Homo sapiens: one gene and its partners. The gene in region 2 interacts genetically with the main gene of each other region. Each region holds a gene or a part of one and is shown on either strand. Other genes may lie near its edges.

Region 1 (3,726 bases), on a different chromosome or scaffold from region 2:
ATGGAATGAATGGTTTATTTAATATTGAAAACTTTGCTTTCATGTATGAAGAAATGGCTCAAAAACACATAATAAAAATTGGGGGAATCTCTTTTTCTTTAAAAATGCTGAAACTCTAAAGGAAAAAAGTGTGTTTTTCTAATAGGGGATGGGAATAATGTCATTACTTAAAAAGTAGCATTTTATTTCAGAGCTGAGAGGTGAAGTAGACCAAAAAAAAAGTACCAATACCAAATATGTTAGACAGTCTATACCATTACACATACTGTTATGCTACAATCTAACCATCACATTAAGTGTAATGAGAAGTTGTAAAATCAAACAGATGTTTAGTTATTTAGTTCACCCTACTTTAGATAAATGAGATGTCTTATTAATTTCCAAATATACTAAAGTTGCTAATTTTTGAAAACTTTCAATCATATATGTATATCCAGCCATACAAACTGAAACTGCTGACACCCAAATCAGGTTCTGAGACATCAGGAAGCTAAATCTCTGAAAGTGGCAAAAATGACAATATTAACAGTGTGCTCGTGAACATGACTTTATAGTGAAGTTCTTAGGCCACTAAAACCTTCCATTTCAATTATCATTTTGACAAATTGGAAAAATAAAGGCATTATCTTACTAGAAATTCTCTTGTCTGGATCTTCTCCATCTTCATCTCCACTGTCTTCATGAACAGCATCTTCTGGAATAGCTTGCATCTGGACACCAGGTGCATGAGGTAACATGCGCAAATTTTCAAACAAACGCTGTCTAAATTACACATGCAAAGTTTATTAGACAAAATTAAATTTCTTTGCAGTTCTTACATGCAAGAGAAAATATTTAGCAAAAAATTTCATCTTTGGTCTAGCTAAACCTATATATTAAAAGGTCTCTCTTTGTTGCCCAGACTAGAGTGCAGTGGCAAGATCATAGCTCACTGCAGCCTCAAACTCCTGGCAATCCTCCTGCCTCAGCCTCTGCGCGTTAGGACTACAAGTGTATGCCACCATGCCCGGCTAATTTTTAAATTTTTTGCAGACAAGGTCTCACTATATGGCCCAGGCTGGTCACAAACTACTGGTCTAAAGCTATCCTCCCACCTCGGACTTCCAAAGCATTAGGATTACAAGCATAAGCCACCTTGACTGGCCAAGGAGGCATTATTTTAGCCTGCCATTTCAATGATGAGAAAACATAAGCACAAAGGCAAGTGAACTTATCAAACATCATACAGCTTGTTTGTGGTACAGAGGTGACTCAAACCCATGCTATGTACTATAATGTCTCTACTTTGCTTGTGGAGACAAAGCCTTAACAAAATGTTCCAGACAATGAAAATAACTTATAGTGCACCTTGCAATTTTAAAATACATTTCAACTAATAAAAAAAATTATTTCCATTAACTGAAGAAATTAAATGGCTGAATACGGTGGCTCATGCCTGTAAGCTCAGCACTTCTGAGAGGCAGAGGTGACAGGATCACTTGAAGCCAGGAGTTCGAGACCAGCCTGGGCAACCAAGCAATATCCCATCCTGACAAAAAAATTAAAAATTAAAAAAAAAAAAAAAGAATAATCAGTAACTTAATGTTTCAAATCCTTTAGAAAAAAACAAAATATCTAATAAAGTTAAAAAGACCCATCATACTTGGCCCTTTAAAGCATACTAAATCTTTGTCAAGATAAAATGTTTATCAAAACAATTCAATGATTTCTTACTTTATCTTTTCCATATATTCTGGAGTGTTCTGGTTTGTCATGTTTGAAGGACTAATATGCAGTTTGAAGTCTGGTCCAAAATACTCAAAGTAATCATTATATGGCAACTCTAATGAAAACAATAAAATAAAGTTACATATTACAAGCTCAGTTTTCACAAAAAACCATGCACAGAATCCAGATTTAGGTGGTGAAATATTTCCTAAGAAAATGTTTAAAAGTGAACACAAAGTGAATGTTCTCCTATTTATAAAGAATGGCACTTACTCTAATCATTCATCCATCTATTTCTATATACAGACAGTCTCTGACTTTCAATGGCTTGACTTACAGTTTTCTGGCTTTTTTGTACCAACTTCAATGTCTTGTATTCAGTACATTACATGAAATATTCAACGTTTTATTTTTATAAAACAGGCTCAGTATTAGATTATTTTGTCCAACTGAAGCCTAACCTAACTGTTCTGAGCACGTTTAAAGTAGGCTGGGCTAAGTCATGTTTGGTAGGTTAAGTGTATTATATCCATTTTCTACTTATCATACTTTCAACTTATGATGGGTTTATCAGGACCTAATTGCAACATAATTAGAGGAGCATCTGTATTGACAGTTCATACAATAAAGATATTGTAATGAGAACACTTACCATTGGGAATCTCACAATCAAGGGCAACTGCAGTCTCATATGTCCAACATCGAGCAACATTACGGATTGTGTAGCCACCTCCTCCAAGCATCAGTAATGGTAAGTTAAAAGTTTTTACAACTTCTACACATTTAGCATGACCTAAGACAAGAAGATTTGGGTAACAACAAAATCTGCATACTGCAACAGTTCGAAAAATAAATTTTAAAAAGATAATAAGTGCAAATGTTACTCAACCAAAATGGGTTTTCTAAATATTTTAAAAACAAATAAAAATGTAAAAAATGTCAAGTCTAAAACTCCTTTCCAAACACGTTATACAATAATACATATTAAAAAATTAAGATATAACTAGCTATTTTAGCAGGTGTCCCTGATGGAAAAGTCAAGTACACAACTATATTAAGATTATAATATGAATATACACCTATTTTATTAACACAGAAAGATGTTCATGTAGGGTTACATGGTGAAATTCATCATGTTACAATAAAACATTATGTATCATCTAAATTAATTTTTATTGACTTTTCTTTCCCTATGGACATGTGTAAAATAATTATGGAAAGCTAAACAACATAGTTTAACCCTGAGTTAACTTTAGGTAGTGGTACTGAGTAGTTTTCCTAACTTAAGAGTTAAAAACATCTATTAATTTTCAAAAACTTCAACTTCTACGTGTAGAAATTTAATATTAATAGTAAACCTAACATAAAAGTAAATATTTTATGTGGATAAATGTCATAATTCAATAAACATTTATAAGTTTCCAGTAAGTTCCCTTCTCGGAATATTACCAGTTAGGCACATAACTCAATCTTTAAAGAAGAAAAGAAAATCCTTCAATTACAAAAGACATTTGTGCATACTGAAGAGTATTTGGGAAAAAATTAAAAAGGGACAATGAAAAAACTAACCACCTAAAAATGACATTATTCAAAAATCGTTTTTCTATATTTCCTTCCATTTCAGAGTTAATTTTACAAAGTTTATCTGTTCTCTTCATGTAACTGTATACTGTGGGAATTTTCATTAAGCATTCTTCAATAGTTGCAACATGTGATTTACATAATTCTAGCACTCAATTTTTATTATTGCTACTAGAAAAGTTTCTTTTAACAGATAAAAACCATTTGGATATTTTTAAAGAAAAAACAAACATACTAAAAGTTAACTTACAGGCTTCCAAGTAAAGATAGCTGGCTAAACAAAGATGTTTACTTTTCCTTCATCCCAAAACTTGACAAAAATGACTCGAAAGGGATTTTTTTAAAGGCCAAAATTTGTAAAAATGAAGAATGGGAGACAATACAAGAGGAAGAACATAGCTGATGGCAGCAAGGAGATGGAAAAGAGATAACTAACTT
Region 2 (4,133 bases):
GGAGACAGACTGTCCTATGTTGTGCAGAAAGCTCCCACACCAGGTAGGCAAGCTGGCCACCAGCAAGGCCCTCCTATGAGCATGACAGCCTAAAAGTGCAGGCAGGCCCTCAGCTCAACTATTGGTATATGGAAAATGAGAAATGTTCTGTGAGATAAGAAATGTTTTGTCATTTTTCTCAGATTTGCTCCCAGTCCCCCATCAGCTGCTTTTCCCTTGTATAAAAGAGATCAAAGGAATATACAGGATCTATTCACAGGTCCCACAAGGAAGGTGGTTGGAAGAGTCACAGATAAGGGTGTTGGGTGAGAAGAGCTGGACTGAGTCCAGAGATTGAAATTACAGGAAGCCCCATTAGTCCAAAGCACTGAACTCGGTGTCCTGTTTCTGCCTTCCAGCCTCCTCCTCATCTTCACCTTTCCCCCTCACCAGTGTTGCTTGGCTAAACCAGTATTTCTTGTGTACTAAAGAAACTGAAAAGCTTACCACAAAAGCAAAAGTAGCTTTCATCCTTTTTTTTTTATTTCATAGTATATTTATTAGAATAAGAGATTAGATTTGTTAAACATCTAGGTTAAAATGGTTAAAAGGATTTTCATACAATTTTAGGCACTATACACGTTGTTTACAACAGCATTGGTACTTGGATATGGGGAAAGATAAATCCGACATTTTAATATCTTGATCAATTTGTGACATTCAAAATAATTCCATTTAAGAAACATTAATCAAAACTTAAAGAGACATACCACTAAGTATCCCACACAGTATACTGAAAATAAATATAGAAATACAACCAGAAGTCTACAGATCACCACAGTAGACAGACTGGTGAAGCCCCAGCTATCATGGCAGTGAAGGGCTCTGGCTAGATTTGGATGTCAACTGCTGAGTTCTACATGAAAAGCAAATAATAATAATAAAATAACATGATGTACACTCTCTGATGCTCATTTTCATAGCAGCAAAGCATGCTTCACATGCACTGCCTGTGAAGGATCTCACAAGGCTCCCTCCTAGAGAGAAAGTATGCCCAGCAAGAATAAAGTACCACCAAATGTCAAAGAATCCCGAAAATACAGGCAGACAGCCAGTCATGGAGCAGGAACAGCAGTGCAATTGTAAGAATGACTACCCACATTCACCAAAATTTCACTGTAATTCAGCCTGGCACAGGTTTTGATCATCAGCATACACACAAATAGCCCCAAGCACAAAGCCAATCCACTTAGGGGAACAATAATAGTAATAAGAATAAAGACAGTAATATTAAAAATGACAAGAGTAGAATCTTGGCACATGCTGTGTTCTTCATCCTTTGTCACAGGTGAAATGCACATCTGAACAGAGACAGGCATGGGAAGGAGGCCCAAAAGCGACATGGCAAACCACCGGGCAGGGGACTCGCTCTTTGTTGCTTCCCAAACACTTAGACGCCAGCAGCATGGGTTGGTGTGCTGGGCTGGTTAAGGCCGATGGTGGAGCAGAGCCAACCTGCAAAATCCACTTCCTCAGCATCAGATCTCTTGATAAAAGCATGAACCTGCATGTAAGGAAACGAGAGGACGTGGTGTTAAAAAGAAACAAAAAAACAAAACCCACCAGGAAGGAAAATCCAAGAGTTTCAGGTCTAGAGCTTGTGCTGCACTTGGAAAGAGCACCTGGCACCTGCCCCTGAGCAACAGTGGGGCCAGCTGCAGGCCCAAAGACCTGCTCCACCAGTCACAGCAGCTGTGAGGCCTTGGGCAAGTCACCTCTTGGAGCCTACTCGTGCAGTATGGAGACAGTAACTCTGCCTTAAATGCCTCACAGGCTTGTTAGAAGGGACAAAGAAAATGATGGACTTAGTGCATATTATATACTATATACACCGTCTATGGCTGTCCAGATATTTACAGTATTACTTAGCTATTTCCACTGCCACCAAACGAGACAGCAGGCGGAGAGTGACTCTGGAAGGAGGCTGAATGTAAGATGAGGCAGTCAGTATTAGGGAAAGGCCGCATCCCCATGAAGGGGGTGGGCTGGCCTTTTCTTTCCCATGGCCCCCTCAGGCATTTCCTCTGGCATATGCTTACTCAGGCTGCGGGGGTCACCCCAGCTTTCCCTTAAACTGATGGGAGAGCAAAGGAGACTGGTGTTTGGTATTCTGCAGCCCCAGGCTCAGCTGGACCACAGTGGGCAGGGAATGAATGGGCTCTGGAAGTACTGCACAGATGACTGACAGAGAAGAACAAATGAATAAACAGGTACTGTAAGAATCCGGAATAAATAGACTCACCATGAGTTGCTTCAAATCTGCTCTCTCTGCGGGGTTTTTTATTAAGCTTAAAGGAAGAAAGACAAGGTAAGAGCTGTTGCCTGGCACTGGTTCTAGCTCAAATAACATGTTTGCATGCCTGTCTTCTCTGCACACTAGAGGCCGAGGATTGCCTGGGCTTGATTCATCCTCCTGTTCTAAGCACAGTATCATGCCCACAGTAAGTTAATACATTCTTGCTGAGTTAAACTAAGGTCAAAAAGCAACGTGCCAATCCCTGGAGAGCAAGTACCAAAAGGAGCAGCTACTACATCCATGATGTAGTTAGACATGCCACATAAGTCTTGGCACTCTAAAAAAGGGCTTATGGCAGCAGCCAAGAATCATCAGACGGGAGGGTAAAGGGCAAAACTCTGCCTGCAGAAGCAATGCTGGTGCTTCCAGAAATGGGGTGGGGAGCCTGACAAATCCAGAGTATACGCTTCCAGAGAACAAGGAGCCAACTTACCATTTATTCACAAAATCTTGAAATTCCAGACTGAACACTCCACTGGGCAGTTTTGGAGGAGGCTGCAAACACATGTTGAGATAAGAAAAATGCCTGGCTCCTTGCTCCAGCCATCTCCTCTCCCCATCCCACCCCTCCCACCAGCCAGTGCTACTTTTTTTTAAAGTCTTCTCTGCAGTCCAAAGGCAGTACTACTCTCATCCAGTCAAGGAAAGGCACAGGTAGAAGGCCAGTGCTGCCTGTTGGGTAACCATGTTGGAACCACTGATCTCAAATAGCACATTTAGAATTGGGACCAAGTCAAGTCCACTCACTTGTCGGGTGATTTTGAACTAATCACTATTCCTCTATGAGCCTCAGTTTACTCTTCTATGACATGAAGAGGTTGGGCCTAATGATCTCAGGGACCCTTTCAAGCTCTGACACTCTACAATGGTAAATCTTGGAGTGCGGCATGGGAACGTAACCAGCAATTTACTGGCAGCAACAGCTAGGGGCACGTGCAAACCACCAGGCATAGCCCAGGTCTGACAGCACCTGCAGAAGCAAACCGGTTTTTAAAAATCCCTTTTCTGAGCCCTAGAGAAGCAGTGAAAAGTTAATAAAACATTAACTGACAGAGGGCTGGATCTGGAAGAATGTTACCTGTACATTCCAGAAATGAGGCTGTTTTCAGATTTTCCCATGGTGATCATGCAGCACTATACAGTACAAGGCTCTGGAGCACTGGGCTCATGGCGTTCCATGCAGTCCAGGAAATGTGGGCCCACTTATGTACCTGGGCTGGGAGCTGTGTGTACCCATGCTGACCCACAGACATAATGTCCATGATGTCACTGCTCTGATGTACAGCCCAAAATCTCGTTTTTAATTTGGGACTAAAAATGAGACACTGATCCCCACCACAAAGCCCAACCTAGTGCTCTTCCTTTGAGGGCCATGTCAGTCTGATCTTAGGTGAGGACTAGAACTCAGCTCTTAGAACAGTGACCCAGAGCAAGCCCCATTCTGCAGACTGTCCCCACTGCTGAGGGAATCAAGGGACCATTCAAGGAAGAGAGGAGACCAGCAGCTTGGCCTCCAGAGGCAGCATCCATTCCTTCTGAACAGGAAAGAGCTAGGCAGCAGAGGGGCTGTGTGCCAGCAGAGGCTGCAGTAGAACAACTGCCATGCAGCCAAGCCTCCTAGGAGGTAAGAATGGGAGGTGGGAGGTGGCAAGGAAGAAAGAGCACTGGGTGGGAAGGACCTGGGCTACTTTTCATCTCGGAGGCTCAATTTCCTCACCTGTTTGAAGAGGAACCAATTTGGCCTACCTCAGCAATGCTTGGGAGAATTGCATGGGAAATTAATGTGAAAATTTGGAAG
Region 3 (3,726 bases), on a different chromosome or scaffold from region 2:
TTTATATTTTTGGTAGAGATGGAGTTTCACCATGTTGCCCAGGGTGGTCTTAAACTCCTGAGCTCAAGTGATCCACCCACGTTGGCCTCCCAAAGTGCTGGAATAGAATTTTTTTTTTTTTTTTTTTTTTTTTGGTGAGACGGAGCCTCACTCTGTTGCCCAGGCTTGAGTGCAGTGGTGTGATCTTGGCTCACTGCAACCTCCACCTCCCAGGTTCAAGCAATTCTCTTGCCTCAGCCTCCTGGGTAGCTGGGATTACAGGCACGTATCACCATGCCTGGCTAATTTTTTTTTGTATTTTTAGTAGAGACAGGGTTTCACCATGTTGGCCAGGCTGGTCTTGAACTCCTGACCTCAGGTGATCTGCCTGCCTTGGCCTCCCAACATACTGGGATTACAGGCGTGAGCCACCGCACCTGACCTAGAATTTTTTTTTTCATGCTACTTCTTTGCCCTATAACTTATGTAGAAGTATGTGTCTCAATTTCCAAATAATTTGGGATTTTTCAGATACCTTTCTAATTTTAATTTTTTAGTTGACTTCTGTTGTGGTCAAAGAACATTACATAATTGAAATCCTTTGAAAGCCAGCTAATTTTTGTATTTTTAACAGAGACAGGATTTCACCATGCTGGGCAGGCTGGTCTCGAACTCCTGACCTCAAATGATCTGCCCACCTTGGCCTCCCCTCCCTGTAAAGTGCTGGGATTACAGGCATGAGCCACCGCACCCGGCCTTCATTGCAATATTTGGTCTGTTCATATTTAACATAATTAATGATATGGTGGGATTTAGGTTCACCATCTTGCTATTAGTTTTCTGTTTGTTCCTTCTGCTCCTTTGCTGTCTTCTTTTGGACTAATCAGGTATTTTTTAGTATTCCGTTTTTTTCCCCACTCTTGTCTTATTAGCCATGCTTTTTTTTTTTTTTTTTTTTTTGAGACGGAGTCTTGCACTGTTGCCCAGGCTGGAGTACAATTTGCAATGGCATGATCTTGGCTCACTACAACCTCTGCTTCCCAGGTTCAAGCGATTCTCATGCCTCAGCCTCCGCAGTAGCTGGGATTATAGGTGTGCGCCACCACACCCGGCTAATGTTTTTGTATTTTTAGTAGAGACAGGTTTTCACCATTTTGGCCAGGCTGGTCTCGAACCCCTGACCCCAAGTGATCCACCCACCTCGGCCTCCCAAAGTGCTAGGATTACAGGCGTGAGCCACTGCCCCGGCCCCTGTATTTTAAGGATTGTTCTAGTGTGTGCACTCAGTTTCCTTAAGTTATCACAGTGAGCTTCAGATATTACACTATTTGATGTTTAACGTGTGGCTCCACACAAGTGTTCTTCCATTTCCTGCCTTTGTGCTGTTGTCCTTCACTTTGCCTGTGATCTGAGCTTCCCAGCACGTTATTACCTTAGATGCAAACCACTGATGACGTGAAACACGCCTTAAAATATATGTGGAATGTAAAGATGTTGAACTCACAGAAGTAGAGAGTAGAATGGTGGTCAGGCGCTGGGGTGGTCAGGGGAGACGTTGGATACAGAATTTCATTTAGATAGGAGGAATAAGTTCAAAAGATCCGTTTTACAACATGGTGACTACAGTTAATAACAATATAGTCTCAAAAAAATGTGTAGATTTTAAGTGTTCTCACCACAAAAGTCACCCCATATATAGTTACCTCATATAGTTGCCATTTCTGGTAACCTTCATTTTTTTTTTTTTTTGAGACAGAGTCTTGCTCTGTGTCCCAGGCTGGAGTGCAGTGGTGCGATCTCAGCTCACGGCAACCTCTGCCTCCCAGGTTCAAGTGATTCTTGTGCCTCAGCCTCCTGAGTAGCTGAGATTACACCCACCTACTCACCTGGTTAATTTTTGTATTTTTAGTAGAGATGGGGTTTTGCCATGTTGGCCAGGCTGGTCTCGAACTCCTGGCCTCCAGTGACCCTCTCGCCTCAGCCTCCCAAAGTGGCAGGATGACAGGCATGAGCCACCGCGCCTGGCCCAACTATTATTTCTTAATATTTATTTTCTTTCTTTAAAAATTTTTTTTCCATACATATTCTGCTTACGTATATTTCTTTATGTGGATGCAAATTTCTGTCTTGTCATTTCTCCTCTACTGAAGAACTTTAACATTTTTTGCAGTACATGTATGCTGATGGTGATGAATTCTCTGTTTTTGTTTCTCTGAAAATGCTTTTATTTCACTGCGTATAGAATTTTAGGTTGACCTTTTTTCTTTTATCGCTAAAGATGTTCTCTCATTTTCTTCTGTCTTTCATTGATTCTGATGATAAATTACTGATAATAATTATTTTTGGTGGTTTCTTTTTTTTTTTTTGCTTTTAAGATTTCTCATTGTCACTGGCTCTTAACAGTTTGGTTATGATGTGTATTGGTGTGATTTTTTTGTGTATATTTTGCGTGGAACTTGTTGAGCATCTTTGAACTGTTGGTTTATACTTTGCATCGAATTTGGAAAATTTTCAGACAGTTCTTCCAGTATTTTTGTGCTCTCCTTTCTCCTCTTCCTGCTGTCCAGCTCCCTGTGCGTTCCTTAGCTTAGATTTTCTCACAGCTCACCGAGGCTCTGCTTACTTTCTGCAAGCTTTTTTCTTTCTGTACTTCAGTTTGATTTGTTTCTATTACTTTATTTATTTATGAGACAGGTTCAGGCTCTGTGGCCCAGGCTGGAGTGCGGTGGCGCAATCTCCGCTCACCGCAGCCTCTGCCTCCCGGGTTCAAGCCATTCTCCCGCCTCAGCCTTCCAAGTAGCTGGGATTACAGGTGAGCGTCACCACACCCGGCTAAGTTTTGTATTTTTAGTAGAGTCGGGGTTTCAGCCTGTTGGCCAGGCTGGTTTCAAACTCCTGGCCTCAAGTGATCCGCCCAGCTCAGCCTCTCACCTTCCCTTTCCTTCTTTCTTTCCTTCCTTCCTTTCTTCTTTCCTCCCTTCCTCCCTCCCTCCCTCACTTCCTTCCTCCTTCCCTCCCTCCCTCCCTTCCTCCCTCCCTCCCTTCCTTCCTTCCTTCCTTCTTTTCTCTTTCTGTCTTTTTTTTTTTTTTTTTGAGACGGTCTTGCTTGGTCACCCAGGCTGGAGTGCACTGGTACAATCTTGGCTCACTGCAAGCTCCGCCTCCCAAGTTCAAGCGATTCTCTGCCTCAGCCTCCCAAGTAGCTGGAATTACAGGCACGTGCCACCATGACTGGCTAATTTTGTATTTTTAGTATAGACAGGGTTTCACCGTGTTATGCAGGCTGGTCTCGAACTCCTGGCCTCAGGTGGATCTGCCTGTTTTTGGCCTCCCGATGTGCTGGGATTACAGGCGTGAGCTGCTGTGCCCGGCCCTAAGTTAGTTTTAATCTCCTTTAATACATTTTTCATTTAAGAGATTGTAGGGCTGGGTGCTTTGGCTCATGCCTGTAATCTCAGCACTTTGGAAGGCTGAGGTGGGAGGGTCACTTGAGTAGCCGGGATCACAGGCATGTGCCACCATTCCTTGGTAACCAGCTTTTAAAAAAACATAATCAGTCCTATTTCCCTGCTGAGGGTACATGTCTCATGATTTATTAGCTGTCTGACTTTAGATATAAAGGAAGCGTGGAGAGGGAAATTTCTGTTCTCCCCAGGAGGTGTTCGTTCTGTTTTAGTCCAGGCCAATAGGGCTGGGGGCCTGGGGCGGGGCAGGGTCTCAGCTTCAGCTCCACCGAGGCCCCTTGAG

Evidence for each region.
Region 1: changes in MAP2K1 (region 2) and HDAC2 together harm fitness more than expected from each alone (negative genetic interaction), as found in Homo sapiens cells (one large-scale study listed by BioGRID).
Region 3: changes in MAP2K1 (region 2) and ING5 are lethal when combined (synthetic lethality), as found in Homo sapiens cells (one large-scale study listed by BioGRID).

The regions. Positions count from the first base shown.
Region 1 is NC_000006.12:113,943,649-113,947,374, forward strand, and holds part of HDAC2 (histone deacetylase 2), read right to left. Parts: intron 2,501-3,726; coding exon 2,360-2,500; intron 1,823-2,359; coding exon 1,714-1,822; intron 763-1,713; coding exon 632-762; intron 1-631. UniProt on the Homo sapiens protein: Histone deacetylase that catalyzes the deacetylation of lysine residues on the N-terminal part of the core histones (H2A, H2B, H3 and H4).
Region 2 is NC_000015.10:66,487,912-66,492,044, reverse strand, and holds the end of MAP2K1 (dual specificity mitogen-activated protein kinase kinase 1), read right to left. Parts: intron 2,831-4,133; coding exon 2,769-2,830; intron 2,328-2,768; coding exon 2,282-2,327; exon of another isoform or gene 1,544-2,281; coding exon 1,430-1,543; 3' UTR 501-1,429; downstream 1-500. UniProt on the Homo sapiens protein: Dual specificity protein kinase which acts as an essential component of the MAP kinase signal transduction pathway.
Region 3 is NC_000002.12:241,715,365-241,719,090, forward strand, and holds part of ING5 (inhibitor of growth protein 5), read left to right. Parts: intron 1-3,726. UniProt on the Homo sapiens protein: Component of the HBO1 complex, which specifically mediates acetylation of histone H3 at 'Lys-14' (H3K14ac) and, to a lower extent, acetylation of histone H4. Component of the MOZ/MORF complex which has a histone H3 acetyltransferase activity.